7 linked regions of the Homo sapiens genome follow. The protein of the gene in region 3 purifies or fractionates together with the protein of the main gene of each other region. This does not show direct contact. Each region holds a gene or a part of one and is shown on either strand. Other genes may lie near its edges.

Evidence for each region.
Region 1: the proteins of BAG2 (region 3) and DNAJC13 purify together in Homo sapiens (affinity purification with mass spectrometry; 3 studies listed by BioGRID and IntAct, with this or other methods). This does not show direct contact.
Region 2: the proteins of BAG2 (region 3) and RASAL2 purify together in Homo sapiens (affinity purification with mass spectrometry; 3 studies listed by BioGRID and IntAct, with this or other methods). This does not show direct contact.
Region 4: the proteins of BAG2 (region 3) and UBAP2 purify together in Homo sapiens (affinity purification with mass spectrometry; 3 studies listed by BioGRID and IntAct, with this or other methods). This does not show direct contact.
Region 5: the proteins of BAG2 (region 3) and DNAJB6 purify together in Homo sapiens (affinity purification with mass spectrometry; 4 studies listed by BioGRID and IntAct, with this or other methods). This does not show direct contact.
Region 6: the proteins of BAG2 (region 3) and AMBRA1 purify together in Homo sapiens (affinity purification with mass spectrometry; 3 studies listed by BioGRID, with this or other methods). This does not show direct contact.
Region 7: the proteins of BAG2 (region 3) and HSF2 purify together in Homo sapiens (affinity purification with mass spectrometry; 4 studies listed by BioGRID and IntAct, with this or other methods). This does not show direct contact.

What each region holds. Positions count from the first base shown.
Region 1 is NC_000003.12:132,531,985-132,536,185, forward strand, and holds part of DNAJC13 (dnaJ homolog subfamily C member 13), read left to right. Parts: intron 1-4,201.
Region 2 is NC_000001.11:178,092,260-178,097,120, forward strand, and holds the start of RASAL2 (ras GTPase-activating protein nGAP), read left to right. Parts: upstream 1-1,844; 5' UTR 1,845-2,233; coding exon 2,234-2,435; intron 2,436-4,861. UniProt on the Homo sapiens protein: Inhibitory regulator of the Ras-cyclic AMP pathway.
Region 3 is NC_000006.12:57,185,172-57,189,372, forward strand, and holds part of BAG2 (BAG family molecular chaperone regulator 2), read left to right. Parts: 3' UTR 1-4,201. UniProt on the Homo sapiens protein: Co-chaperone for HSP70 and HSC70 chaperone proteins. Acts as a nucleotide-exchange factor (NEF) promoting the release of ADP from the HSP70 and HSC70 proteins thereby triggering client/substrate protein release.
Region 4 is NC_000009.12:33,940,634-33,944,834, reverse strand, and holds part of UBAP2 (ubiquitin-associated protein 2), read left to right. Parts: intron 1-195; coding exon 196-470; intron 471-1,245; coding exon 1,246-1,415; intron 1,416-2,972; coding exon 2,973-3,186; intron 3,187-4,201. UniProt on the Homo sapiens protein: Recruits the ubiquitination machinery to RNA polymerase II for polyubiquitination, removal and degradation, when the transcription-coupled nucleotide excision repair (TC-NER) machinery fails to resolve DNA damage. May promote the degradation of ANXA2.
Region 5 is NC_000007.14:157,343,262-157,347,462, forward strand, and holds part of DNAJB6 (dnaJ homolog subfamily B member 6), read left to right. Parts: intron 1-4,201. UniProt on the Homo sapiens protein: Has a stimulatory effect on the ATPase activity of HSP70 in a dose-dependent and time-dependent manner and hence acts as a co-chaperone of HSP70. Plays an indispensable role in the organization of KRT8/KRT18 filaments.
Region 6 is NC_000011.10:46,398,454-46,402,209, reverse strand, and holds part of AMBRA1 (activating molecule in BECN1-regulated autophagy protein 1), read left to right. Parts: intron 1-3,756. UniProt on the Homo sapiens protein: Substrate-recognition component of a DCX (DDB1-CUL4-X-box) E3 ubiquitin-protein ligase complex involved in cell cycle control and autophagy.
Region 7 is NC_000006.12:122,412,770-122,416,970, forward strand, and holds part of HSF2 (heat shock factor protein 2), read left to right. Parts: intron 1-755; coding exon 756-880; intron 881-3,451; coding exon 3,452-3,527; intron 3,528-4,201. UniProt on the Homo sapiens protein: DNA-binding protein that specifically binds heat shock promoter elements (HSE) and activates transcription. In higher eukaryotes, HSF is unable to bind to the HSE unless the cells are heat shocked.

The sequences.
Region 1 (4,201 bases), on a different chromosome or scaffold from region 3:
TTAGAATAGTCATTTTCATATAGGCTTCAACATAAGTCAGACTCTTGCTGAATGCTAAAGAGGCAATATCTAGTCTGCTATAAAAGTTCTTAATTTGAAATTAACCTTAGGAATATGAGGCGGTTCTTGCTGTCTGCCTGAAATTGTAGTATATAAAAAGATGTCAGCCCTGCATTCTCTCCTAACCAAAGATGATAAACTAAGAGAAAAAATTATCACCCAGGGTTTCTAAGCCATTGTAATTGTTTTAATCTTGATTGCTAGTATAGAAGTTTATAAGATCATGAAGACTTTATCTTGAATATTCAAAATTAGAGGCTTTGGAGGAAATTTTACCTGGTTTTAATTTTAAACTTGGTGTGACACTTTTTTTTCTTCACCATAACCACTTTAATATTGACACTCCTAAAGTTGGAGCAGAGTCCTAAAATTTATAAACATGCAGTGCTTTGGCTGCAGGTCATGTCCTGTTCAGAACAGTGTCATAGGTTTTTATTTTAACTTTTCCATCCCCTGTCCCTCATATCTATGGAGAAAAATACCTAGACTGTGTTCTCAGTCTGTCCCATATCTCTCTTCAGATTTGGTGTTAAAATTATAGCTTCTAAGTAGGAGTTTGTTCTTATAGGCAGTATAAAAACTTTACCTCTTTAGCCTATGTCCAAAAGTTCACATACCACGTTTTCATGGCATTACATTCATTACTTTTTGTATAAGGATGGTATGATTGAAAAAAAAATCTGCCTTATTTTTATTTTATTATTTATTTTTTTGAGACAGTCTTGCTCTCTCACCCAGGCTGGAGTGCAGTGGTGCGACCTCAGCTCACTGCAACCTCTGCTCCCTGGATTCAAGTGATTCTCCTGCCTCAGCTTCCCAAGTAGCTGGCATTATAGGCTTGCACCACCACACCCAGCTAATTTTTGTAATTATTATTATTATTATTATTATTTTAGTAGAGACGGAATTTTGCCATGTTAGCTATGCTGGTCTCAAACTCCTGACCTCAGGTGATCCACCCACCTCGGCCTCCCAAAGTGCTGGGATTACAGGCGTGAGACACCACACCTGGCTTTTTTTTTTTTTTTTGCGACGGAGTCTGGCTCTGTCACCCAGGCTGGAGTGCAATGGTGCAATCTTGGCTCACTGCAACCTCTGCCTCCCAGGTTCAAGCCATTCTCCTGCCTCAGCTTCCCAAGTACTTGGGATGATAGGCATGTACCACCATGCCCAGCTAATTTTTGTATTTTTAGTAGAGGCTGGTCTCAAACTCCTGACTTCAGGTGATCTGCCCACTTCGGCTTCCCAAAGCATTGGGATTACAGGCGTGAGCCAGCATGCCCGCCCTCTTTTTTTTTTTTTTTTTTTTGAGACAGAGTCTTGGTCTGTTGCCCAGGCTGGAGTACTACAGCATGAGCTCAGCTCACCGCAACCTTTGCCTCCCGGGTTCAAACGATTCTCCTGCCTTAGCCTCACAAGTAGCTGAGATTACAGGTGTGCACCACCATTCCCAGCTAATTTTTGTATTTTTAGTAGAGACGGGGTTTTGCTGTGTTGGCCAGGCTGGTCTCGGACTCCTGACCTCAAATGATCCACCCGCCTCAAATGATCCACCCGCCTGGTACTCCCAAAGTCCTGGGATTACAGGTGTGAGCCACTGCACCTGGTCAGCCTTATTTTTCTTAACTAAGAGTAAATTGGCCCTGAAGAATAGTAATGTGTATATTATAAGCTTCTCTACAGGAAAGCCTCTTCTAATTCTTCTGTTCAGTCTTATCTATCATTCTTTGACTTAACTTGATGAAATAAAAAACATATGTCCTTGACTTACAGAGTGTGAACCAAAAGGTCTGTGGTTAGAATCCAGAAGAAATAGGGGTTTATCTTCAGAAACCTGGACTTCATTTGGTCCTCACCCCCATCCACATGCTTTAGTAACTATAGGGAAAAGGTATAGGCAGTAAAAAGCTTCTTGTCTGTGCCTTTCCTTTTACTTGGATCCATGCGGTGGCTTCTGAATGAGATATGAAAAGTGGCTGTGAAGGGGTTAGAAGAAGGTTAGGGAAAAAGAAAAGTTGGGGTATACAAATTTCTTCCCATCCCTGAGCCGGCTTAAGGGACAGCAAGTTCTGTACAGGTCTGGCCAAATGGGGAGATGGTATAAAACCCAACCAGGAAGGGGCATGGAGATAATGAGTCTTCCAGAAGGCCATTACTGAAGCCTGCAGACGTGTCCATGTAGAACAGTCTGGATAAGCTGTAAGCATTGTTGACCCCAGAATTGTGAAATTCTGAGCATGTTATCAATCTGGGATGCTCTTTTTTAGCGATGTCAGTTGCTGGAAATTTTTTCATCAGCTCTAGTCTGTCCTATTTGAAAGGACCAACTTGCCAGGTGCAATGGCTCATGTCTGTAATCCCAGCAATTTTGGAGGCCAAGGTGGGCGGACTGCTTGAGTCCAGGAGTTCCAGACCAGCGTGGGCAACACGGCAAGACCCCGTCTCTATAAAAAAATACAAAAATTTAGCCAGGCATGTTGGTGCATGCCTGTAGTCCCACCTACTCGGGAGGCTCTCTTGAGCCTAGGAGGTGGAGGTCACAGGTGAGCTGAGCTCTCACCACCACACTCCAGCCTGGGCAATAGAGCAAGACCTTGTCTCAAAAAAAATTAAGTTACATTAAAAATGAAAGAACTATTTCAAGAATTAAAGCTTCTAACTCTTGCTGTCTGCCTGAAATTGTAGTATATAAGATGTCAGCCCTACATCCTCTAACTACAGATGATGTAGGCAAATTAAGAGATAAATTAGGTAAATTTACTGCCAGTTGGATTGATGTGTGCTCATTGCTTGAGTTGCCAAATGTTTTTTGTGTTTGAGCTTTTCATTGATGTATTGTGTATCATGTGTTTGATAAAAGGGGCATGTAGTTCTAATAATGATAAAATCCCATGATGTGGAACTCCAGGAATTTATAGTGTTGTGTTGAATTGGAATTTCATTTAGTTAAAATGTGCCCCGTGCTACTCCCAAACTTCAGAAGATACAGATTGTACCCAGCCCCTCTGTAATCATTGAAATCAAGGTTGCTGTGACAACACACATCACCAACCCTTTCTTCTAACTGATATCTTTAGGTGAGTTTGGCAGGTTAGGTGGATTTTGTTTAGGACATGGGGAAAGACAAAGGAGTTAATTACTACTTCAAAGTAAGATAAAAATGACCAAAACTACGTTTTCTTCTCTCTGGCTGCTGAGTAAATGTCATTCAGTCACATGCCCAAGATTTGGGGTAAAAATTTTAAAGTCCTAGGTAGGATTACTCAATCTTGATAAATTTAAATGAGACTGCCTATTTCCATAGGTTCTCTAGCCTGGCATATTTTGTTTTATGATAAATGCTTATTTAAAGGTGCCTCAGTGGAATTTTTCCTGTGATGCAGATAAATTGTGGTTACTCATTATCCAGGGCCCTTGATCACTTAGCCATTTATTAGGTTCTAGAACAGCTTGGTGCTGATGGTCTCAGAGCCTCATAAAAAATAATTTCAGCAGTGAAAATCCTCAAATTACCTAACCTAGAAAATCAGTAGCAAAAGAAGGAACAACAGGAAAAGGAACAGAGGCCAGGGTGAAGATGCTTCTAGGAGCCAGAATTGGAGATGAACTTTTCACATATACATTTCATCGTGGTAGCCAATTCAGTTTTGTGGGATTCTCTGTAAATTTTCCATCTTTTCTCATTTCTCTGAAGTCCAGCAGCCTTGTGCAATCTTGCCACATGCCCATTCCTGGCAGCCCCTGCTCTTCCCATCTTTCTCTGAAGAACACAACTGCCCTATTCTGTGCAAATGACCAGGCAGCACCTTTTAGCCCCAAGAAACCAGACACATCCTCAAGGAGAGGCCAGGGTCCTGGGGAGAGCATCTCGGATTTCATTTGTAGAACTATCCGGGAATTGATTTTGATTTGCCTTTCCTAAAGAGGCAAATGATGGTACTAAAATTTGGTTTCTTCCTTCTAAGCCCATCATTTCACCATTTAGATTTTAGCTCAGAGGTTCCCACATTTTCTCAGTTCACAGTGCCCTTAATAGCTCAGTAATTTTTTCATCCGTCCCCAAGCCAAAAGAAATACCTAATAATTTAGTTTATGAAGTAATTGCAAGACAACTTGAAAGTAGTTGTTTGTATGGTGGTCA
Region 2 (4,861 bases), on a different chromosome or scaffold from region 3:
AACTTATGTTACCATGGCATTAATTTAGTATAAATAAAAATGCTCTAGGTCTACTCAGTGCTGAGCCTTGAAATCTCAGCACTCAACATCTCTTATCCACTAAAGCACACACTGTTGTTTACACGTGGAAGACTGACTATGCAGCCAGTCTAGTAAGCAAGCAAGCAAGCAAGCAAGCAGGGTCCTAGATATTAAAAATGACCATTCCTGTAAACCATCAAGCCACAAATCAACAAGCTTAATCACAAAAGTTTCTTGAGGGAACAAAGTTGAAGTAATATCCATTGAGTCATTGTGGAACTATCTGTACTTGTGGTTGATTAGCCAGGTAAGCTGGTTTTTCCTCAGTTTCCTCACCTGTTAAACAAGAGGCAGAATGATGTTCTCTCTAAAACACTTCTTGCTTTGAAATACTATTACTCTAAATAAGACTTTGGAGAAACTCACAAAATACATCCTTGTTAACTCTCAATAAGCCCAAACAATATTCCAGGACCCCACAAAACCAGAAAACTAACAGGACCCCTTGTAGACCAGTCTCTTTGTGCAACGTAGGGAGAAAGGGCGGGGGGGACTAAAGAACCTCCCAAAAGGTATTAAAAATAGCAACATGTAATTATGAAAAATCTTGTTCCACATTAGGTAGCCACATTCAAGAAAAACTGTTGGAGATCTACTATGTCCAAGGCACGGTTTAAGTTATTACTGTTCAATTTTGAAATTATTATTGTTAACTTGTCAGTAATTTCTTAAACCTAAACTGGTGAAACTCTCCTTGGGTGGACATAAAAGTAAAGCCATGGCCAAGGAGGGAGACAGTCTACAAATAAACCAAAAATAAAATACAAGTGACATCATTAAAGGAAAAAAGCCAACACACTGCACAAAGATCAAAGACAAAACAGAGAAACATGTTTGGTTAATACTGGGCTTTGAGTATTTCATGTGCCTGAGAGGCCCGTCCGTCCATCCACACCACACTTCTTCACCATGCTGTTGCAAACCAATGACAAGTTCAGCTTCAGCGCGGACAGGGCGCAGGGCGCAGACCCTGTGCATATCCCAGAATCCCGGACCCACTGCCACTCCACTCTGGGAAGGAAGAAGGCGCTCCCCCTTGGGTGACTGTAAGATAAAGCAGCTTCTTCGATCTCTTTGTCCAATAAGAAAGAAACGTTGGCCCATAAAGAAAGAAAGAAACAAATAAATAGGAAAGGTGTGAGAAGGAAGGGAAGCTCCTTTCTTTTCTGTTTAAATTTCCCGCACCCTTTTACCTCCCCGCCTTCTCAAACGGTCTTTACTTTGAGCAGCAGAGACCCGGACCGCTCAATACCCGGCTATCCCTGGGAGGGTACTTGGAAAGTAGGCGGGACAGGCCGGATGAATAATTCGGTGTCCGACTTTTCCTGCCTGCGGCGCAGTCCCTCCCCGGCTTCGTTACTCGAGTGCACACGCGGCCGGGCTCTCGGCCCTCGATTGCTTCAGCCTATCACCCTGGGATGCCGCCTGCCGCTGCCGCCGCCGCCGCCGCCGCCACCGCCACCGCCACCGCCACCGCCACCGCCGTGGCTGCCGGGTTTGTGGGATCCGCCGCGGAGCAGGAGCCAGAGCTGTGGCCGGAGCTGTGGCCTGAGAGTCAGGGGGCGGGCAGGCTCATTCCAGAAGTGGGGGCCGAGGACAGGCGGGCTAGAACCCGGGGCCACCGCCCCCTACCCCTCCTCAGGCTGAGGGAACGGGCACTCGGAGCTTCTGAGGCGGCGGCGGCGGGAGCCGGTCAGAGGGGGCGGCCCCTGGCGGCGACGCCCCCAAGCCCAGCCCTGCCCGGCCCCGCTCCATCCCCAGCCAGAGCCTGGTCTGACCGCGAGAGACGCCGGCGGGGCTGAAGAAGGCGGCTCCGAGGAGGTGGGAGGGCGAGCCTCCCCTCCCGGGTTCTTCTGCGTCCTCTCCCGGGAGGGACCCACACACACCTGAGCCCGGACCCACCCTTGGTCGGGGCCACGCTGGATCCTCCTCCCGGCCTGGGTCCCGCCCGCCGACTGCAGGTGGGCTGCATCGCCCGAGCCTCGGGCAGTGGGCGACGGGGAAGGAGGTGAGAGGTGTCCGCGCCGGCTGCCGCTCGGGTCCCTGCCCTCGCTGCGCGCTCTCCTCCTCCCCTTACCGCAGGCAGGGCGCGGAGCCGCGCGCCAGCCCGCCCCGAAGCCGCCGCCTCGTCCCCCTCCCGCCTCGGGGCACCATGGAGCTCTCTCCGTCGTCCGGAGGAGCCGCGGAGGCGCTGTCCTGGCCGGAGATGTTCCCGGCGCTGGAGTCCGACTCGCCGCTGCCCCCGGAGGACCTGGACGCGGTTGTCCCAGTCAGTGGAGCCGTCGCCGGTGGCATGTTGGATCGGATCCTTCTGGAGTCCGTGTGCCAGCAACAGAGCTGGGTCCGGGTGTACGGTAAGGACCACAGGCCGTCTTAGAGGCTGGTGTTTCCTATTTTTGCTTGGGCTGAAATTCATTCCCTAAGTCACAGGCTCATTCCCAGTCCTCATCCGTGCTAGGTCAGTTTCCCACATCCCTTTTTGTTCTGGGGGTGCATTTCTGACAAGTTTCTTCAGACTATCACTTGGGCAGGGATGTCACTCAGTATGGTCTTTGGACCTCTTCAGACACCTGCAGTAAGTTTAATGCGGGAGTTGGGCTATCCAAGACGTAATTCTTAGGCGATTACTTCAAGGGAACAGCCAGGCAATCAATCTTCAAGAAGGTATGATGGAAAAACTCCATGAAACCAAGTGAATGGATTTTCGTCTCTTTTTATTGTTGAATGAGGCAAGACTGGAAACCAAGATATTATGAAAAAGCAGAGGATAAGCTAATGAATGAAAAAAATGCAAACTATGTATTTGGTGGGAGCAAGACTAATCTATAACCTCTGCCTGAACCTCACTCTCTCTAAAAGCAACCACTTATTCCAACGGGTGTGGATTGTTTCAGATTACACTATTGTTTCTGAATCTCGTTGTAAAGTGACTGGGTTGCCACTCAGCAGGTTAAAAGTGATGAACACACTAAAACTTTCCCTTTCTGCATTCCTGGTAACCACCTCTTTAATTAAAACTGAATGATGAGATTCTATTAGGGTGAGCCTTGTGGCAGCACTAAAACCATGCTGGTTTTGAAAACTCATAGCTTAAGGATTTATAGCCTGGCATTCAGGACTGAGCTGTGGCTTTCCAAAATATTGAAACGGCAAGATGTTTATCGCCTAGCTCACGTGACTGCAGAAGACATTAGTAACGTGGCTGAGTATAAGATGGCAAATTTGAAGCACCTGGGATCAAACACAATGTTAAGATGTTATCCTGCAGTCTTGTGCATCTAAGCCTGTAGTGATCAAGTACCTTATGTTTTTTTCTTTCATCTTTCTGAACAGGGTATATGCTTACTATTCAAGAGTGACCAAGACTTAGGTTTTTTTCTGTGTAGTTCAGTTGATTTGAAGACTTAATGTCCATCGCAAAGATCATAGAACTAGGAGTCCAGAGATCTCAGTTCTTGTCTCAGTTCTACCACTAAATGGCTATGGGATTTGGGGCAGATCGAGTCACATTTTTGGCTTGTGATTCCTCATCTGTAAAGTGAGTGGATTGGATTAAATCATCACTAGTGACCCTTTTAATCATAAAAATCCAGGAATTCTTCTTATAACCAGTTCTTAAGGATTTGTGTACCACTTTGTATTTTGCTGGCTGTTTCTTGATGTTACTCTACGTACCGGAAGATTTAAAGCAAAGGAGTGGGAGACGATGCAAGGTCACCCAGTTTGTTCTCAGCAAATTAGATTAAAAACTTTGGTGCCTGATTTTCCGTCTGCCTGCTAAATCCCACTTAGCTGGTCATTTAGAACAAAGGTTGGTGAGAATCTGAAAGTGCATATGAATTAGAGTATATTGTAGTTACAACGTTTTCCCATTCTATCATCTTTCTCTCCTTACACACTTCTTTGGCATACTGTTTATTTGTGTGATGTTAGAAATAGGGCCATGCTATTCTAAGAATACATGTATATGATAATTCGGTATTTCAGTATCCAAAACAATCTGGGTTCTCTGGACCTAGTGTTAACTATCGTTCTTCATTTGTAAGGACATAAAAGTCTACAAATGTATGTTGTTTTGTAGTCCATTCCTAGGGGTTGATTTGTGAAATATATATTGTATATTTTGTGTGTGTGTGTGTGTGTGTGTAAGAGAGAGAGAGAGTGAGAGCAAGTTTACATTATGTTTTTTTTCTTTCGTCCTTCTGAACAGGATATATGTTTATTGTTCAAGAGTGACCACGACTTAGAAGTTTTCTTTCTGCGTGGTTCAATTGATGTCAAGACTTCATATCAGACATCACAGAAATGCATGGTATGTATATGTGTGTGACACACACATATACATACCATGCCTTGCATTTTTGTGACCAATTGCAGACTTACCACTGCATTGTAACTTTTTTTGTTTTCTCTATCAATTAACCAGAAGTTGTTTTTATTTATTGTTTAGTATTGCTACTTTCCTTCCTCTGAGGCAGCTCATCCTGGATACTATTTTGTTGTCTTTAGTTTATGTAAATATTTCAGAACTATTGGAATGACTCTTGGCTATGTCCTTAGCTAGTTTTAAGTTGCCTATTGTATGAACAGGGTGTATGTTTGAAAACTTTGAAGTAAAAACTTTGAAATAAAAGTAATAGAATGTAGAAAAACAATTTGGAGAATACAGAATTTTTGTTTTTCTTGTTTCTTGTCTGTGTGTTCAAAACCTTCGTTGTCTTGGATCACCTAGGTTCTTCTCACAATTTAAAGAGACTTTGATGAGTGTAGTCTAACATGT
Region 3 (4,201 bases):
TTTATACTTTTTTCAGTAATTAAAATATAGCTATTTCACTGAAATATTTCCAGCACTGAGCATTAATACCTAGTTTGCATTTTGTTTACTAAAAAGGTTGACCAGTGTGTTGATTCTTCTTTTATCTGATAAAGTGTGAAGCAACTAGAGAACACTTATTTGTTCAAAGTAACTAGTCCTATTGATATACAAAAACCACAACAACTTCCCTGGATACTATTTTGAAATGAACACATCAATTTTTATTTGAATGTAGGTATTCTTCACACTGAAAAACCAAATCAAGATCCAAACTGACTTTATGTATGTATATATCTCTCAATGCAAGCAATATCAAACTTCATTTTCTCTACAAAAATGCCAAGTTAGTCTCTTTATAAAAAGCAGTTACAATCTGAAGACATTCATGTTACTTCCTTTGCCAGCTCCAACTCTGCCTTATTTAAATCTTTGCATTTCATGGGAAACATTAATTCTATCTATGGCAGAGCCACTTGGTTTGTTAGCAGACTGATTTGCTGTCATCAGACTGTGAGATGATTTTTTGTGTGCATCATTTTTTTCTTGACCAGCTTTTTGAAAATTAAGAAATGGATAGTCATGTTTTCTTCAGGTTCTCAAGTATTGTCAGCATCCGTAAATCCCTTCCACTCTGGGAAATACTACTGCTCCCTGCTTCCCATGGCTTCCACATCAGTCCAGGACTTTTTCTACACAAATTATTCTGGCTCTGCCTCCTTGACCTTGGTATTCTTAGCATTATTTTTCCCATTTTTTTGCAATGGAGTTTTTAATGGAGGTCATTGATTTCTGATCACAGACTTGAAGAGCTATGATCCACATTTCCAAGCTGCTTGGGGTCCCTGGTTTACAGTGTCTCCAGCATTCTGTACCTAGAGCCACATCTAAAGGGCAGGGAATCTCCAGTGTGGTTTTTTGTTTTTTTGTTTTTTGTTTTGGAGTCTTGCTCTGTCACCCAGGCTGTCTGACAAGTAGAAGACATATCCACTGTAGCAAGGAACACTATGGAGTATATGAGTTAGGGAAAAGAGACTGTGAAGGGAAGAGAACAAACATTTTGTAGACGTTTGGTGTTGAATATATGCTATGGAGGCAGTTTCTATAGTTTCATTTACTTCATGAGGTTTCATTTTTTCTTTTCTGAGATGGAGTCTTGCTCTGTTGCCCAGGCTGGAGTGCAGTGGTGTGATCTCAGCTCACTGCAACCTCCACCTCCCGGGTTCAAGCGATTCTCCTGCCTCAGCCTCCCTAGTAGTTGGGACTACAGGCGCCCACCACCACGCCCGGCTAAATTTTTGTATTTTTAGTAGACATGGGGTTTCACCATATTGGCCAGGCTGGTCTCAAACTCCTGACCTTGTGATCTGCCTGCCTTGGCCTCCCAAAGTACAGGGATTACAGGCATGAGCCACCACGCTTGGCCAATGGGTTGGTTCTTAACATGTATTTTTATTTATAAGAATGGGAGTATAATTTATTTTCAAATGATGATGAATCTCCTGAGTCACATTTTTACCCTCATTTAAACTATTGTCTTTTATATAGACTATAAGTGGATATAGAGTATGTTTTGCTGTATCTCAATTCTCTACCATTCCTAGCATATAATACATAATTTTAGGGTAGCCCTCCTGCCATTCCTTGTTAGCACTACTTTCAATAAAATGAGAGTATTAAATATTGGCAGAGTATCTGAAATATGAAATAATTTTAGGTTGCTTTGATCTTTAAAGAAGTTGCATTATATATTTTACTATTTAGATCCACACTGTTGATACAATCATACATATCACACAAAATTTTAGCTTTGAAATGCATTTATTTTCTGATTATTGGAATTCATCCTTCATGAAATTTTTAGAGTAGTGTTTTAAATTAAGCTCCAGAGTGTAACTGCAACCAAATAGCAATACATACAAGTGGTTTTCCATTCAAATTTACAAAAGCATTATTTATTAGTAATAAAAATATAGAAGGAATTCAGTTTTCCTTTTATCCCCAATTTTTTGCTTTTAAAAGACCATTTACTAACATCCTACTGTAGATATTTCGAGAGACAGATGAAAATAATAATAATAAAGATTATTATAGCCAAATCATCCAGTTAGCCAGGAGTTTGATGACTGGATATTTCAGAGTCTACTGCGGGTTTTAAATATTTTGTTAGCAAATGAATTCATCTGTATGATGAGAGACTTACATGTTTTATAGCTGAAAACCTAAGGAGTGACAATAGTACATGTGACATTCTTAACAGTTAAAAACTGAGTAAGTCCTGTTCATTAGGTAGGTGCCATGTGGAACAAGCTTTCACCTCATCAATGCATTTTGTTTTCAGAGAAACAGACTAATGATAGATTAATGGGAACATTTTATCAGGTTAGCAGTAACTATTTCAAAGGTTTTGAAAAGTATGCTAATAATTAACAATATCTTATATTAAAAGGGTCCAACACTAAGTTGGGACATTAGGTCCTAAGGCCAACTCCCTATTCTAAGGTCTTCAGAAAAGGTCCAGTTTCCTAAAACTCACAGGTCCAAGGAGTACATGTTATTTATTGAGAGTTCCTTCTGAGCACTGCACTGCCAACTTCTAAAGCAACCACCTAGAACTTCACTCCATAATGAGGAAAAAGTTTTCATCCTCTTTTTGGTAGTTTTAGCTTTATTTTGAAAAAGTAACGTGTGCTATCAACTTTGGGCAGATACAAAGGAAATCATTTAACCTGGTTTTATTTAACTATATTGCCTTATATGGGTCATTCTATATACTATTTAATTCATAGACAGAGACTGGAAAAGGAAAAGGAAACCTGAGGAACTCTGAAATATGGCAGTTATTCCACAGCGATATGTCTACGCAAAAGATTAGCCGTAATGTTAAAAAAGTAGATTAGAGCACAAATGCACAATCACCTGGAATCTTGGAAAAGTTTTTCTTTAGTATACATGGTTTCATAAAATTAAAGTTATTTAAGAGAATGAAGGGTCTTGGAAAAAAAATGTCAATTTTTGAAGGCTTTAAGAATTGATTAAATTGAGAAATTAACATGGCTGACTTTCAGGCCTACTTAATTATTTTAAATGACTAATTATGGTTAGGTTTAAAATACAGCAGTGCAAATTAAAAATTCAAATATGTAACAAAGCTCTCTCTTCAGTTCTTATTTAAAAAAAGATAAAACTAGGTACATAAAATTATATTACAGGAACTGTAACTATCCTCAGAGATTACTTTTTTTAAATATAGAAAGGTAACACGCTTTTAGCCACACAGCTAACATGAAAAAGAACTAACTAGAACACATATAACAAGTGATTTTTCTGCCAATAAAGACAAAAGACTATTTGTTGCAAAGTATTATTTTGTGCAAAAATTAAAGAGGAGAGTAGAGAGTAGAAAATTGAAGAGAGTAGAAAAGATGACTCATTAGCAGTATCCACTGTTTGTTAGGAACTGAATTTTGCCCCCAAAACCTATGTCACTATCAGCAATGGGAGTGGTGACAACTGGTGACATAAAAATAAGCATTTTACATTACTGTGAAATAGATAATGCCAGATCATTTCAATATAATGAAAAGCAAAAATTTACTTTTTAATTTTTTTTATTTTTCCATCTAAAATGGCAAAGAGAACATTTACTTTTGATCACTTAACAAGGACACACCCAGGAAATTTGATTTTCTCAACATTAGGAGGATGAGGGGAGTACAGATGGAAAAACAAAAGATAAAACACAAAAGGAGTACATAAAACATTGTTTAGTACAAATAATGAAAAATGACTTCATGACATTTTCCAATAAAAGTTATTTTTACAGATTTTGCAATGCTGTAAAAACCAGGTATATTGAAAGGGGTTATTTATAGGTTAAAAATAAAGCCATTGATGAGTGATAATCAGTTTTAACAGAGTTCACGCAATTATCTTAGCTGGAAAGCTACTGTCCCAAGTGACAAAATTTATGTCCTGACACATGATTACATATTAAATCATTTTGTAAAAGAAATGATTCTGTATGTGGGACTGACAGCTCTTGAGAAAGTGCTATACAAACAAGGTTATAGAAATGTTGAAGTGATTGATAATCTTAAAATACCATACAAAAATGTGTAAACAAAAGGATGGTTTAGAGTTGCAGGGCATTATAAAATATGTAATTTTAGTTAAGACTAAT
Region 4 (4,201 bases), on a different chromosome or scaffold from region 3:
AGGAAACAAGGTGTGTACCCATTTAGGAACTTTTCCCGTTTATCATAAATGAAGTGTTACACATAGTGTGTGTAAAACCTAAGAAATTCAACTGGAAATGATTTGGAGAAATTGGTGGTAATAGAACACTTCATGTTCTATTGAAGAACATTGTGAAGCCATTATGCCTCATTAATTGCTGCTTACTTTTTTTAGACTTCAAATCTCAACCTGAGCCATCCCCAGTTCTTAGCCAGTTGAGCCAGCGACAACAGCACCAGAGCCAGGCAGTCACTGTTCCTCCTCCTGGTTTGGAGTCCTTTCCTTCCCAGGCAAAACTTCGAGAATCAACACCTGGAGACAGTCCCTCCACTGTGAACAAGCTTTTGCAGCTTCCCAGCACGACCATTGAAAATATCTCTGTGTCTGTCCACCAGCCACAGCCCAAACACATCAAACTTGCTAAGCGGCGGATACCCCCAGCTTCTAAGGTGGGCATTTCATCATGAAGTCACCGTCCTAAAGCTGGAATTATTTTTACATTCAGCTCTAGTGGGATACTAAGTTTTGGAAACTGGGGTACAGTGTTTTTCAAGCACATAGCTTATTGATTGCATAATAAGGATATGGCCATTTCTGAGTGACCAGACTAGTATTAGAGGGAATGGGTTTGTGCTGAGAGCCACAGATCCTTATTTCAAGTACAGATTTGAAGATCTGGCTCAGAGAACTGTTGTTCTTGAGGGTTTTGCTGTATCCCATAGTTGGAGGATGCATGGTTCCTTGACCAGGTGATACTTTCATCATTGGTGAGTCCCCAAAAATAGAGTAGTCAGCTCAGTGTTCACTTCCCACCCACCATCACAACTCCCCCGCATTGCTCTTAGATGCAGGTGGTGATATTAATGCCAACCATTCCTGTTTAACTTTTAATTTCTCCTTTTTTTTTTTAAATGAGACAGGGTCTCGCCGTGTTGTCCAGGCTGGTCTTGAACTCCTGGGTGCAAATGATCCTCCTGTCTTGGCCTCCCAAAGTCCTGGGATTACAGGCATGAGCCACCATGCCCAGCCAACTTTTAATTTTTCTTAGCTTGTTTTTTTTCTTTCTCTTTTTAGAAAAGTCTTAGCCTATTTTCTCCTTGTTTCTCACTCCTTCTTCTTGCCAGTATTGCCTGGGAACCTAAATGCTTGTTTGGCTCTGTTATAGGCCTTTGTGACCTGGAATCTGTGACCTCTGTTCCTGACACGACAGCTTTGCTTTTTCAGATCCCAGCTTCTGCAGTGGAAATGCCTGGTTCAGCAGATGTCACAGGATTAAATGTGCAGTTTGGGGCTCTGGAATTTGGGTCAGAACCTTCTCTCTCTGAATTTGGATCAGCTCCAAGCAGTGAAAATAGTAATCAGATTCCCATCAGCTTGTATTCGAAGTCTTTAAGGTACTGAATTTAGTCCTTTGTTATGAAGCAAAATAGACCCTAAGAGAGATCAACTGGTGGAAAAGAATACATCCTGTGGTAATAGCTATCCTCAGTGTTTATCCAGACCTTCCATCATCTCCATAAGAAACCCCATACCTGTAGCAGACAGTCTCAGTTTCTTCATTGCCCTGCCCCTTAGCAACCAATAATCTGTCTCTGGATTTGCCTACCTGGACATTTCATATAACTGGAATCTTGGAATATGTGGCCTTTTATGTCTGATCTTTCACTTAGTGTAAGTTTTCGAGGTACACCCATGTTTAATGTATCATTTTTATTGCCAAATATTTCATTGTGTTGATAATACCACATTTTATTCATTCATTAGTTGGTGGACATTTGGGTTGTTTGCTCTTTTTGACTATAGTGAATGATGCTGCTATGGACATTTGGTTTCAAGTTTTGCATGCTTTCAGTTCTTTGGGATGTATATCCCAGGAGTAGAGTTGCTGAGTCATATGGTAACTTAACCATTCAGGAAACTCCCATACTGTTTCCACTGTGGCTGTAGCATTTGACATTCCTACCAGTAGTCTATGAGGGATCTAATTTCTCCACATGTTTGCAGCAGTCATTTTCCTTCAGTGGAATATTTTATAAATACAAAATCTCAGATTTTAGTTTTCTTTTCTTTTCTTTTTTTTTTTTTTGAGATAGGGTCTTGCTCTGTTGTCCAGGCTGGAGTGCAGCAGCATGCTTGGCTCGCTGCAACCTCTGCCTCCCAGGCTCAAATGATCCTCCTGCCTCAGACTCCTGAGTATCTGGGATTACAGGCGTGCACCACCATGCCCAGCTAATTTTTAAATATGTTTTGTAGAGACAGGGTTTCGTCATGTTGCCCAGACTGGCCTCAAACTCTGGAGCTCAATGAATCTGCCTGCATCAGCCTCCCAAAGTGCTGGGATTACAGGCATGAGCCACCGGCCTGGCTGACTTTGTTGTTGTTGTTGTTTTAGTTTTTTCACATTCCAGAGGCAAAACCTGATATTTGTTTAAGTTTCCTTTTTAAAGATGGTCTCAAACACCTGGATTCCTTAAAGAATCTTCTTATTTTTTTTCTTTTTTTCTAGACAGAGTCTTGCTCTGTCGCCAGGCTGGAGTGCAGTGGCGCGATCTTGGTTCACTGCAACCTCTGCCTCCCGAGTTCAAGTGATTCTCCTTTCTCAGCCTCCAGAGTGGCTGGGATTACAGGTGCCCACTGCCACGCCCTGCTAATTTTTGTATTTTTAGTAGAGACGGGGTTTCACCATGTTGGCAAGGATGGTCTCGATCTCCTGACCTCCGGATCCGCCCACCTCTGCCTCTCAAAGTGCTGGGATTACAGGCGTGAGCCACCGCACGCAGCCTAAGTATTCTTAAAGATGTCCCCCTATCTCTCAGTTAAATTAGGTGGGTCTCATTTGGGATAATAAATTGATGCAGTAGTTGCATCTCGTGAAGCTGTTTATGTTTTTTTTTTTTTATGAAGCTATTTAAAGTAACAAAATTATGTTGAATATTTTTGACTCTTTTCAGTGAGCCTTTGAATACATCTTTATCAATGACCAGTGCAGTACAGAACTCCACATATACAACTTCCGTCATTACCTCCTGCAGTCTGACAAGCTCATCACTGAATTCTGCTAGTCCAGTAGCAATGTCTTCCTCTTATGACCAGAGTTCTGTGCATAACAGGATCCCATACCAAAGCCCTGTGAGTTCATCAGAGTCAGCTCCAGGAACCATCATGGTAAGTGGTATTTTAGTTTTTTTCTCAGAAGATGTCCGTCTTATTTGGAAATTAATGTTTGGTTAAATTATGCTTCTTGGATATGATTTTATTTTACAAATTGACTAACCTTTTGAGTAGAATCCTTATAGTTCATTGAGTTTGTTTATAGTGGGCATCTCTAGCACCCATGCTCTTGAGTGTGTGGATAGATCTGCAGGTTCATACACTTTGTGGAGAAAACCAAGCATGCGTGTAGTATGAGCACTTTGGCTGTAGTACTGGGTACTTCTACATTGTCTGAAATATCTCTGAATATTTCATGTACTGCTTTCTCTCTGATTGCCCCATTTGCTTTGAATGTATTTGCTTCTTCATCACTGTTAGGTATTTTTGTGTTAAAATTATGTATTTTCTACCTAGTTTTTGTTAATAATACTGGACTATAGATAAAGGAACCAGATCTATTTTTGATATAGTTTTAAAGTTTTACCCTTCTAGATTCTTGCTAACTGCATATCTGATGGTCATTGCCAGTTGTATTGCTTTCTGTTAAGTTGAGATGTACCAATATCTCCTGAGAATCTTAGAAAGAAACTTAAAAAAGAACAAGTATACACATTTCATGTCACACTAGTAATACTTGAACATCATTCTGTCCCAGGAAATTAAAATAATATGGATGACACTACAGGCATACCTTGGAGATACTGCAGGTTGTTTTATACCACTGCAATAAAGAAAGTTGCGCTAATTTTTTGGTTTCCTAGTGCATATAAAAGTTACAATGTGGATATCTTAATTAAAGATACTTTATTGATAAGAAATGCTAAAAATTAATATGTGAGCATTCAGTGTGAGCAATTCTGTGGATTGTTTGTTTTTTGGGGGAGTACAGGTTCTTGCTTTGTCACCCAGGTTAGAGTCCAGTGGCGCGATCACAGCACACTGCAGCCTTGACCTCCCGGGCTCAGTGAGTCCTCCCACCCTAGCCTCCCAAAGAGCTGGGACTACAGACATGCATTGCCATGTCTGG
Region 5 (4,201 bases), on a different chromosome or scaffold from region 3:
CAATTCTCCTGCCTCAGGCTGCCGAGTAGCTGGGACTACAGGCGCTCACCACCATGCCTGGCTAATTTTTGTATTTTTAGTAGAGAAAGGGGTTTGCCATGTTGGCCGGGCTGGTCTTGAACACCTCAGGTGATCTGCGTGCCTCGGCCCTCCAAAGTGCTGGGATTACAGGCGTGAGCCACCTCACCTGGCCTCAGATGAATTTAGAAACCACTATTTTTTTTTGAGATGGAGTCTTGCTCTGTTGCCCCGGCTGGAGTGCTGTGGTGTGATCTCAGCTCACTGCAAACTCTCCCGGGTTCAAGCAGTTCTCCTGCCTCACCTGGAACTACAGGCGCCACCACGTCTGACTGGGTTTTGTATTTTTAGTAGAGACGGGGTTTCACCACGTTGGCCATGCTGTTCTCAAACTCCTGACCCCAGGTGATCCACCTGCCATGGCCTCCCAAAGTGCTGGGATTATACGCATGAGCTACCCACGCCTAATCTTTATGTGACGTGTTTTTTTAAAAGTCCTAAACTTAGAGGTCATTGAATTTATTGGAGAAGGTTATTTTTGATTAATGGCGATTAGGCTAATTTTTTTCATGGTTTTAATAGAGATTTTTCGTTTTTTTAAACTTGATTTAGATGTATTGCTTTTGGAAATTGCAGAAATTAACAAACCGAGTTTTCCTAAGAAATATTTTTTCTTAATTTCTTAATTGAAAAGTTTTCTATGGCTTCCTTAATAGACAGTAGGACCTAGTTAATAGTTTAAAGAAGTTTCATAATTGTTATTAGAAATGTTAATTATGGGCCGGGTGTGGTGGCTCACACCTGTAATCCCAGTACTTTGGGAGGCCAAGGTGGTCAGATCACAAGGTCAGGAGTTTGAGACCATCCTGGCTAGCATGGTGAAACCCCATCTCTACTAAAACAATACAAAAATCAGCTGGGCGTGGTGACAGGTGCCTGTAGTCTCAGCTACTTAGCAGGCTGAGGCAGGAGAATGGCGTGAACGCGGGAGGCGGAGCTTGCAGTGAGCCGAGATCCCTCTACTGCACTCTACTGCACTCTGCCTGGGTGACAGAGTGAGACTCCGTCTCAAAAAAAAAAAAAAATAGCCAGGCATTGTGGGACACACCTGTAGTCCCAGGTACTCGGGAGGCTGATGCAGGAGAATCGCTGGAACCAGGGAGGTGGAGGTTGCAGTGAGCTGAGATTGTGCTGCTGCACTCCAGCCTGGGCAACAGAGTGAGACTCAAACTCAAAAAAAAAAAAAAGTTAATTTTGTAGTTAGAGAATATCTTCCTGCTCTACGCAAATTCCCTTCCAGCCTGAAATTATTTGTTTTTTTATTTTTTATTTAAAAAAAAATTTATTATTTTTGTGACAGGGTCTTGCTCCGTTACGTAGGCTGGAGGGCATTGGTGCGTTCACGTCTCACTAGCATCGACTGCCTGGGCTCAAGTGATTTTCCTGCCTCAGCCACTTCCAGTAGCTGGGACTACAGGTGCACACTGCCACACCCTACTGAGTTTTTATATTTCGTAGAGACAAGATTTTGCTGTGTTACTCAGCGTGGTCTTGAACTCCTGAGCTGAAGTGATCCCCCTGCCTCAGCCTGCCAAAGTGTTAGGATTACAGGCATGAGCTACTGTACCCAGCTGTGATTTCTTTTAAAGTGCTACTTTACAGCACTGTCACTTTTATTTTATCATTTTTAACTTTAAAGTTTTTTGTTTATTTTTATTTATTTTATTTTTTGAGATGAAGTTTCGCCCTTGTTGCCCAGGCTAGAGTGCAATGGAGTGGTCTCGGCTCACTGCAACCTCTGCCTTCCAGGTTCAAGTGATTCTCCTGCCTCAGCCTCCCAAGTAACTGGGATTACAGGCGCCCGCCACCACACCTGGCTAGTTTTTGTATTTTTTGTAGAGACAGGATTTCACCATGTTGTCCAGACTGGTCTTGAATTCCTGACCTCAGGTGATCCACCCGCCTCAGCCTCCCAAAGTGCTGGGATTACAGGCGTGAGCCACTGCGCCTGGCTTAAAATTTTTATTTTTTATATATTTTGTTTTTTTCTGAGACAGGGCCTTGCCCTGTCTCTTGTCCAAGTTGGAGTGCAGTGACATGACATGGCTCACAGCATCCTTGATCTCTTGCGCTCAAGTGATCCTGCCATTTCAGCCTCCTGCATAGCTGGGAGTACAGGCATGTGCCACCCCACTCAGCTAATTTTTTTTATCTTTTTGTAGAGATGGTGTCTTACTGTGTTGCCCAGGCTGGTCTCAAGCTCTTGGGCTCAAGTGATCCTTCTGCACATTTCCAAGGTTGTTTCACTCCTGTGTCTTTGCTGTCTAGAAGCTTTTCAGTGTGATGTAATCCCACTTGTCTGTTTCGGCTTTTGTTCCTTGTGCTTTTGGGGGTCATATCCAAACAAAGATTGCTGAGGGGCCAAATTTTAAATTGTGTATAATTTTAATGACTTCAGATTTAAATAGCTGCATTTGGCTTATGGAGTCTTTTGAGCAGCATGGTTTTAAAAAGGTTTTTGCCAAGTGGGGTTCTAATGGACACCTATGCTTGTAGAGCTCTGATGTGAGTGATCTGCTGTAGAAATTACTTCTTTTGATTTAGTATATTATTTTAAAATGCAGGTGATGCACTGGTTTCTTGGTGAGGGAAGCTGGTTTTTCCTGGCTGAGCTTCTGTAGGGTGGAGGGCTGGAGTCCAGGCTCTCGCTGGGCAGGGAAGGCAGCTTGAGTGTGCCTTCCAGTCCTCCTGAGGGCCCACATTTTTCTGGGATCACCTGTTTTCTGTAATGTGCATTGAACACACGGGCCAGGAGAAGAGGGAAGTAGAGGAGCTTTGTCCTCTGTGCTCATCCTCACAGTGCTGGGCGGGCCAGAAGGATTCAGGGCCAACCTTAGGGAGATGAAGGCCAGTTAAAATGTTTTATTGCCACAAATGGTGTCTTTTAAGAAATGAATCCATGTATTTTACACTTAAATGATATTAGGCTACTCCGGGCACACTGCCTATGGGGTAGCCCTGCTCTGCAAGGAGTAGTAAAAAAAAAAAAAAAAAAAAAGTTAAAGATACAACTTAGTTTCTCTGTGACTAGGGAAATCGTCCAAGTATGTATCAAATAATGCTAATTGGTACCTAGTTTTATATCTTGATTAGGCAACTTTTTGCTTAAAATTGTTTTGGAATGCATTAGTATTTCTACAGCTTCAGGCTGCTTTATCATCTAATACACAGTTGGATATTTAATATATAGTTTTATCAGTTTTTTTTAAACACTGTTTTTGAGAGGTCTGAGGAAAAAAAAGATAGTGTTACCAAAAATACTTCTATAGGGAAATACTGATAGAAATGTATAGGTAGCCTTGAAATTCTGAGGTTAATAAAAAAATTTGAATGCAGGTAACCTTTCATGGAGTTTGTCAAATTTTAAATTGTGTCTTACATCAGTGATGACTGAAGCAGTAAGGAGTGAGCTTGCAGCAAACAGTGGGGATTGTTGCAGCATCAGCACTTCAGCCAGCTCTGCAGGTTTCCTTGGAGACACGTGGATTTCTCTTTCTAGACCTTCAGCTATTTTCTTTTTTTTCTTGTTTTCTTGAGATGGAGTCTTGCTCTGTCGCCCAGGCTGCAGTGCAGTGGTGCGATCTCGGCGCACTGCAAGCTCCACCTCTCGGGTTCACACCGTTCTCCTGCCTCAGCCTGCCAAGTAGCTGAGACTACAGGCGCCCGCCACCACGCCCGGCTAATTTTTTCTATTTTTAGTAGAGACGGGGTTTCACCGTGTTAGCTAGGATGGTCTTGATCTCCTGACCTCGTGATTCGCCTGCCTCGGCCTCCCAAAGTGCTGGGATTACAGGCATGAGCCACCGCGCCCGGCCAGCTATTTTCATTTTGTTGTTTCTGTAATGCGTATTTGTATTTAATTTATATTCTAAATTTGTTAGTCTTACTGGCATTTGATGAAAACTAAAAAGGTAATTTTGAGATTTCAAGTACTGGTGAGAGAATGTCCCATAGCCTTGAGGGTTGGAATTGTGTACATTGACAGCATAGTGCCACGATACAGGCTAGCATGAGTTCTGGAGGCAAACTTGGATTCTTACTATTTTTAAAGATGCAGTGTCTTTGGTATGTTGCCCAGGTTGAACTCAGACTCCTGGGCTGAAGCCATCCTCCTGCCTCAGCC
Region 6 (3,756 bases), on a different chromosome or scaffold from region 3:
TGAAAAGAGAATACAGCTGAGTCCAAGACCTTCAGGAACTTATAGGCCAGAAGAGAGATGCCACAGCTACGGGGAGTTGTGAAGCACTGTGAGGTCCCAGAGAAGGAGCATCCCCTTCTAGCTGGGGGACCAGAGAGAAGTGGGTGGCAGAGGAGATGGGACGAGAGCATGGCACAGTGTGCACAGTGTATGCCCATCTGTGCAGGCAGGGAGCAGGGCTGCCGGGTACCTGCAGGAATGTGGGGGACAGGGCAGGAAGGTCTGCAGCATGATAAGGGTCTGGCCAGAGAGCCCTCAAATGTCAAGCTAAGGAGTTTTGACTACTGTGAGGGCTTTTGCAGCTGCTGGGTTTTGAACAGGGTGCAGACTTAACCAGAGCTCAAGTCAGCAGAGCTGAATTAGGATGGTAATAGGAACAGTGTGGAGACTAGACGGAAGGGGAGGAGACTGGAAGCAAGAAGCCCAGTTAGGACACAGTCATAGCCATAGAGAGGGGTGGCCAGGCCTGGAGCCATAGGCAAGCAAGCAGTGGGCTCAGACTTGAGTGCCAGCAGCAGGGCCTCCCGCAGAGCCTGGGAAAGCCCATCCGGGGCTCTCTGGGGGCTTGGCTGCAGCAGCACCCATAGGGCCCCAAGGCAGCCTGTTCTGCCCCTGGTAATCTACTTGAGAAGAGCTGAGCTGGGTGCGGTGGCTCATGCCTCCCAGAACTTTGGGAGGTCCAAGTGGGTGGATCACAAGGTCAGGAGTCTGATACCAGCCTGGCCAGCATGATGAAACACTGTCTCTACTAAAAATACAAAAATTAGCTGGGTATGGTGGCACATGCCTGTAGTCCCAGCTACTCGGGAGGCTGAGGCAGGAGAATTGCATGAACCCGGGAAGTGGAGGTTGCAGTGAGCTGAGATCATGTCACTGCACTCCAGTCTGGGCGACAGAGCGAGACTCTGTCTCGAAAAGAGCTGAGAATTCACTAGGCACAGCGCCTGGCACAGTGCACTCCAATGCCAGCAGGCCTCAGGCCAGCCACAGCACGCCCCAGACCATGCTGCGAGGGCTTCAGTGCACAGAGTTCTGAGAAAGCATTGGGGCTACAGTGAGCACAGGGAGGGCCCCAGGGGACCTCCCCAGGCAGCCCTTGGCTCCCAGGGTAGAATCTCTGTGGGCACCAAGGCCGTAGGTTGACTTTTTTCTTCTTACCTTCTGCCCCACTGTTAGAAGGCTTTAAAACCTGAAGATGGGGTTGACCCAGTACTCTGAGAGCCCTTCAGGTTTTCTCTCCTTCTGCCCTGGGAGCTGGAGCCGGGTGTCCCAGGAGGAAGTGGGGAAGGGCAGCCACCTTGAGGGATGGAGGGCAGTGCTTTATCAGGGGTTGTCCAGAAAAGCAAGAGAGGACATAATGCTGAGGAAGATCGTCTAAGACTGGGGCTGGGCGCAGTGACTCACCCATGTAATCCCAGCATTTTGGGAGGCCAAGGCAGGAGGATTGCTTGAGCCCAGGAGTTCAAGACCAGCCTGGGCAACACGGCGAAACCGTCTCTGCAAAAAGTACAAAAAATTAGCCAGGAGTGGTGCTTGCCTGTACTCCCTACTACTCAGGAGGCTGAGGTGGGTGGATCACTTGCACCCAAGAGGCTAAGCTACAGTGAGCCATGTTTGTACCATTGCACTCCAGTTTAGGTGACATAGCGAGACCTGGTCTCAAAAAAAAAAAAAAAAAAAAAAAAAAAAAAAAAAAACTATAGAAAGAACTAGAAGCATGAGGCTGCCAAGTACCAACAAGAAGGGTGAGAGATCTCTTGGGGCCTTAGATGCCACCAAGCTGTGAAACTGGCTGGCCTGGAAATCCAACTCTAATGAGGCAGGCAGAGAGAAGGGGATGGATGGGGTTAGGGGAGCAAAGAAAGTCTCATAAAAATAGCTGCTGGCAAGTACCCCAAAAGGAAAGAAAACTCACCATCAAAACCCCCAAAACTGCAAAATTCCAAACAGTAGCTGATGGAGACAAATCAGCAGTTCAGTGGAGCCATCCCTCGCAGCCTCAGAGCCTTGATCATAGTTGCCCACGGTCTTGGCCTGGTTCTCACCCTACCAAGAGCTGAGCAGAAAGCTGGAAGGGAGGTCCCACAGCAATAGAGCTCCACTGCTGCAGACCCCAAGTTAATCACAACAGGCACCGTTGACCAAGTGCCTGGGCTGTGCGTTAGCTCCTTTTCTCTCTCCAGCACCGTGCAAGGTAGATGTTAGGGATTTTTTTCAAGGTCACCCAGCAAGCAAGTGACAGCTGAGATTTGAGCCGAAGTCTTTTCTGTTCCCACACAAGGGAATGCTCAGGCATTTCTGCAGAGGGAGTGGCGGACAGATCCTTCTCTCCCTCCCTAGACCTGGGTCCTGTGCTGGTCAGTTGACTCTTTTCCGGGAAATATGGCATCAGGCATTGAGCCCCAGGAGAACAATAACTGGGGAATAGCTTGTGAAGACTGGGGGGTAAAGGGAAAGAAGAGAAGGAAACAGCCCTTCCAAGGAACAGTTAAAACTCTCAGCTTCTGACCAGGCACGGTGGCTCACGCCTGTAATCCCAACACTTTGGGAGGCCTAGGTGGGCGGATCGCCTGAAGTCAGGAGGTCGAGAGCAGCCTGGCCAACATGGTGGAACCCCATCTCTACTAAAAATACAAAAAATTAGCCAGGTGTGGTGGGAGCCTGTAATCCCAGCTACTCAGGAGGCTGAGGCAGGAGAATCGCTTGAACCTGGGAGGTGGAGGTTGCAGTGAGCCAAGATTGTGCCACTGCACTTCAGCCTGAGTGACAAGAGCAAAACTCCATCTCAAAAAACAAAGGCTGGGCACGGTGGCTCATGCCTATAATCCCAGCCTTTTGGGAGGCTGAGGCAGGCAGATTACCTGAGGTCAGGAGTTCGAGACTGGCCTGGCTAACATGGTGAAACCCCGTCTCTACTAAAAATACAAAAATTAGCTGGGTGTGGTGGCGGGCACCTGTAATCCCAGCTACTCGGAGGCTGAGGCGGAAGAATGGCTTGAACCCAGGAAGTGGAGGTTGCAGTGAGCTGAGATCGCATCATTGCACTCCAGCCTGGGCGACTAGAACAAAACTCCATTTCAAAAAAATAAATAAATATGGCCAGGCGTGGTGGCTCACGCCTGTAATCCTAGCACTTTGGGAGGCCGAGGAGGGTGGATCACCTGAGGTCAGGAGCTCGAAACCAGCCTGGCCAACATGGGGAAACACCATCTCTACTAAAAATACAAAAATGAGCCAGGTATGATGGTGCATGCCTGTAATCCCAGCTACTTGGGAGGCTGAGGCAGGATAATTGCTTGAACCCGGGAGGCGGAGGTTGCAGTGAGCCAAGATCACACCACTGCACTCCAGCTTGGGTGACAGAGCAAGACTCTGTCTCAAAAATAAATAAAATAGGCCAGGCGCAGTGGCTCACACCTGTAATCCCAACACTTTGGGAGGCTGAGGTGGGCAGATCACGAGATCAGGAGATCAAGAACATCCTGGTTAACATGGTGAAACCCTGTCTCTACTAAAAATATAAAATTAGCTGGGTGTGGTGGCGGGCACCTGTAGTTACTCAGGAGGCCGAGGCAGGAGAATGGTGTGAACCCAGGAGGTAGAGCTTGCAGTGAGCTGAGATCGCACCACTGCACTCCAGCCTGGGTGAAAGAGTGAGACTCCATCAATCAATCAATCAATATAAAAATAACTCTCAGCTTCCTCAGGGGCTTTGAG
Region 7 (4,201 bases), about 65 Mb from region 3:
CTATTGTGAACGTGAGCTAATTAGGGTATTGACCTGGAGTGTGCTTGGCCAAGATTTTTATTTCAGCTGTTGAAAGTACAGAAATGCACAACTGTTCCTTGTTGGGATGAATTAGGATAATAAAGTTTTACTTGTTTCCCTGTATTTTTTTCCTAAGTTAGCTTAAAAAAAAAAAAAAGTTTAAGTTCCTGCTAGAATATGAGCTCCCTGGAAGACTTTTTCTATAGTTTGTAATTGTACATCCAGTACCTACAATAAGTCTCTTCTAATAATATAAATATGCCCACATAGTAGGCATTCAGAAATACATTCAGTAATATATTTTTTAATGCATAATATCTTTTGGTAAAATAAGATATTTTACTAAATCTGTAAAAGGGGTGGACCATGAAAGAAAATGGCCTAGCATGAACCTTTTACTGCATAAATTTAATTAAATGTGGAATGTGGTAATAAAGAGGCTTGGGGGAAATTGCAAGGAGCTTGGCATAAGGGGAGAATAAAAGACTCTAAGATATTCCTGCTTGCGGAAACTTTTTAACATTAAAAAAAAATTTTTTTTAAGTAGATTATTCCTTGCGTTCTCTCCCATTGAGCTCTGAAGTTTATTCTTTCCCTAGCATTTCATCCCGGGCTTTTGGAACCAGATCTCACTTCCTGAACAGGCTACGAAAACCTCTTCTAATAGGGAAGCTTTGAATTACAATCATGGGTGTTTACTGTTTCTTTGATTTTCTAAATTTACTTTTTCAAAGGTTTCATCTTCAAAACCAGAAGAAAATAAAATTCGTCAGGAAGATTTAACAAAAATTATAAGTAGTGCTCAGAAGGTTCAGATAAAACAGGAAACTATTGAGTCCAGGCTTTCTGAATTAAAAAGGTAAAGTGTTATTTCCAAATATAATTTTAATCTGGGAATTGGGTATGTGTCTATGTGTGTTGAGTTTGGAGGTTGTCTGATGTTTTATTGTAAGTACTCAGATCACTTTGTTGAAGCCAAGATCAAAGGTCATTTTTCTGCAAGTATTGGTTCCCTTTACTTTGATTTGTGGCCACTGACTTTACTCTAATATTGTTTTAATTATGATAGTCAGAAGAAGATATAAACCTAAGCGTATCAAAACAGTTTGATGTATAAGTCTTAGCAATAAACAGTAGGTCTTTAAGATGATGTAGGAAATATGATTCTATTTAGGTTAGCTCATATGGTGCTCATAGACAATGAGGGCATACGACATAAAAACCCTGTATGTTACCCATCCTTTGTTTAATGGCTGTCTCTTAAGATTTCTTTGTGTGGACTCTTAGGAAAAAGTAGGACACAAAAAAATCGGAAAACGATGCAGGAGAGTTGCCATGCTTGATACTTATTTCGTATAGACTTGGAAAAGTGTTATTCAGAGCTTTTATCTACAGAAAGATGCTTCGTTTTATTTTACTACATTTCTTGGTTACCATTATTGTAACTTGCCATACTAATAACTTGTGTATAGAGTAGATAGTGTATTACTCTTCTTAGTAAGTAGCTGGAATTTTTCTGTATCCTAATAGGTGCCAAGGGCTTAAGAGTGGTTACTTTACATATTCTCTCTTCCATATCAGATGTGAGACGTTACTTTAGTTAATCATAACTCAAATATCTTCATTAAAAGAGGAACCTATAACTTTGATTTCTTTTTTAAATAAGCTTTAGGCTTTCTCTTCTTGTGTATTTAACAACTTGTTTACTGTATGTATCTTGTGTATACTAGCTGCTCTTTGACCCAGTTCCTTGGGACCACAGTTTCAGCCTTTAAAGAAAGTGATCCCCAAATCATTTTTTGTACCTTAGAGGGAACTTTCTTCTCCTTATCTTTTTGTTTGTTTGTTTTTGTTTTGAGACAGTCTCACTCTGTTACCCAGTCTGGAGTGCAGTGACTTGATCTTACCTCACTGCAATCTCCGCCTGCCGGTTCAAGCGATTCTTGTGCCTCAGCCTCCCTAGTAGCTGGGATTACAGGCATGTGCCAGCTAATTTTTGTATTTTTAGTAGAGATGGGGTTTCACTGTGTTGGCCAGGCTGTTCTCAAACTCCTGACCTCAAGTGATCCGCCCACATCGGCCTTTCAAAGTGCTGGAATTACAGGCACGAGCCACCGCACCCAGCCCTACTTATCTTTATTTAGTAAGCAGATAACAACATTTTTTAATTTGAATCAGAAAAATACAGTAGTTATTCAGTAAATATTAAAATCTCCTTTGGTATACCCTTATATGTAAATCTCCAGTTCCTTTTATATTAGTTTGGATTAAAGAAGATGACTTGTGGAGAATAACAAAAGATGGAAAATTAAAGCATTTAATAGGTATTCAGCATTCTCCGTGCTGCGAACATTTAACAACATAATGCAGTTTCAATTAAAAAAGGTGAACGAAGAAGAAGCTATTCATATTTGGCAAGTTATTAGTTTATTATTGGATATGCTTTTTCAGAATAACATTTTAGTGGTTTACATATGCTGTTGTTTGAGATAGATCTTAAGATAGTTTTAGAATCTGACAGACTTTAGTTTGATTTCAACACTTACCAAATTATTTGTATGATCTTGAGCAGTTCCCCTCAATTCTCTGTACCTCAGTGTCCTCATCTATAAAATAGAGATGATGACTTATTTCTTGGTGGTTTTTAGAGAAATTTTAAATAAGTAATACACATAAAATGTCTAGCATAGTGCTTAGAGTATAGTAAGTGCTGGGTATATATCACTACCCTTTATTTCCTAAGGTGATTAGGAAGGCCTGAATTCACTTGGTAACCACAGTTGAAAGATTAGCTTATTTTTTTTTAAGCAAAAAATAATGAGCCAGATTGTCAAAAGTAGTAAATTGCCAACTACTATATTGATGTAGGCATATGTCTTAAGTTTCTGTGTATCTATTGTCATGAGTAGCAGATACTACACTTAGGAAGGAATGATTCTGGTGCTGGGTGCGGTGGCTCATGCCTGTAATCGCAGCACTTTGGGAGGCCGAGGTGGGTGGATCACCTGAGGTCAGGAGTTTGAGATCAGCCTGGCCAACATGGCAAAACCCCGTTTCTACTAAAAATACAAAAAAAATTAGCTGGTTGTGGTGGCACATGCCTGTAATCCCAGCTACTTAGGAAGCTGAGGCACGAGAATTGCTTGAACCCTGGAGGTGAAGGTTGCAATGAGCCGAGATCGTACCACTGCACTTCAGCCTGGGCGACAGAGCAAAGCTACACCTTTTTTTTAAAAAAAGAATGATTCAGGAGTTGTGTCAAGGTAGTTGTCATTCCTATGTAATTGAACCAAAGTTTTCTTGGTCTCATAAATACATATAGTAAAAACAAGTGTAGTTCAGTTGTCTGGTATTCTTAATTAAAGATACTATGGTCTGGTTTTTTGATTGATTTTTTTTTTGTTTTGTTGCTTAATAAATTATAACATAGTGAGAATGAGTCCCTTTGGAAGGAGGTGTCAGAATTACGAGCAAAGCATGCACAACAGCAACAAGTTATTCGAAAGGTAAGAAGCTCTTTTCCCCAGGACCATAATTTGCATTTGTTTAATGAGTACTGTTTGTGACCCAAAAAGGTCTTTATTGAGTGTCTGTGATTGATCTTAGTTTCTTACATATTGGATGCACAGATAGAAGTAAAAAATGAAATGAAATTAAGCCAAGTGTTACACATTTTTAATAAAAAATTTCTCACTAGCTAAAGATGGTTATTCCATACTCGCAGATAATGTCTCAGTAGCTTTTAGTAAATGATCTTTTGCCTAATATAACAATTTTGAAATACTTTATTTTTATGAGCATAATGAATACACTACCAATTTCTTTTAAAATTAGAAAACATAGCCTTACTGGTTTTTTTTGTTGGTTTTTATTATAAAAGGCATAGTTAAGGTCTCAGAAGATAAATGACAAATATTTTCAAATCAGTTGACCAAATTATGAGTTCAGAAAATGATTTCTCAATGTATGCTGTTATTAGTCTGTGGAGAAAAGCAGTTAACATAGTGTTGTAAAATGAATTTTAGATTTTAGTATCTGAGCTGAAAATTTAATAGAGGAGTTGGAATCCCTCCGTTTCATTGTGTCCTTGTGATTTAATCTTTGCATATCAGCTTTCATTTGCTAATAAGAGATGAAACATAGTAATTAAGGCAGCTATTTTTTGCTCATGAGTAAACTA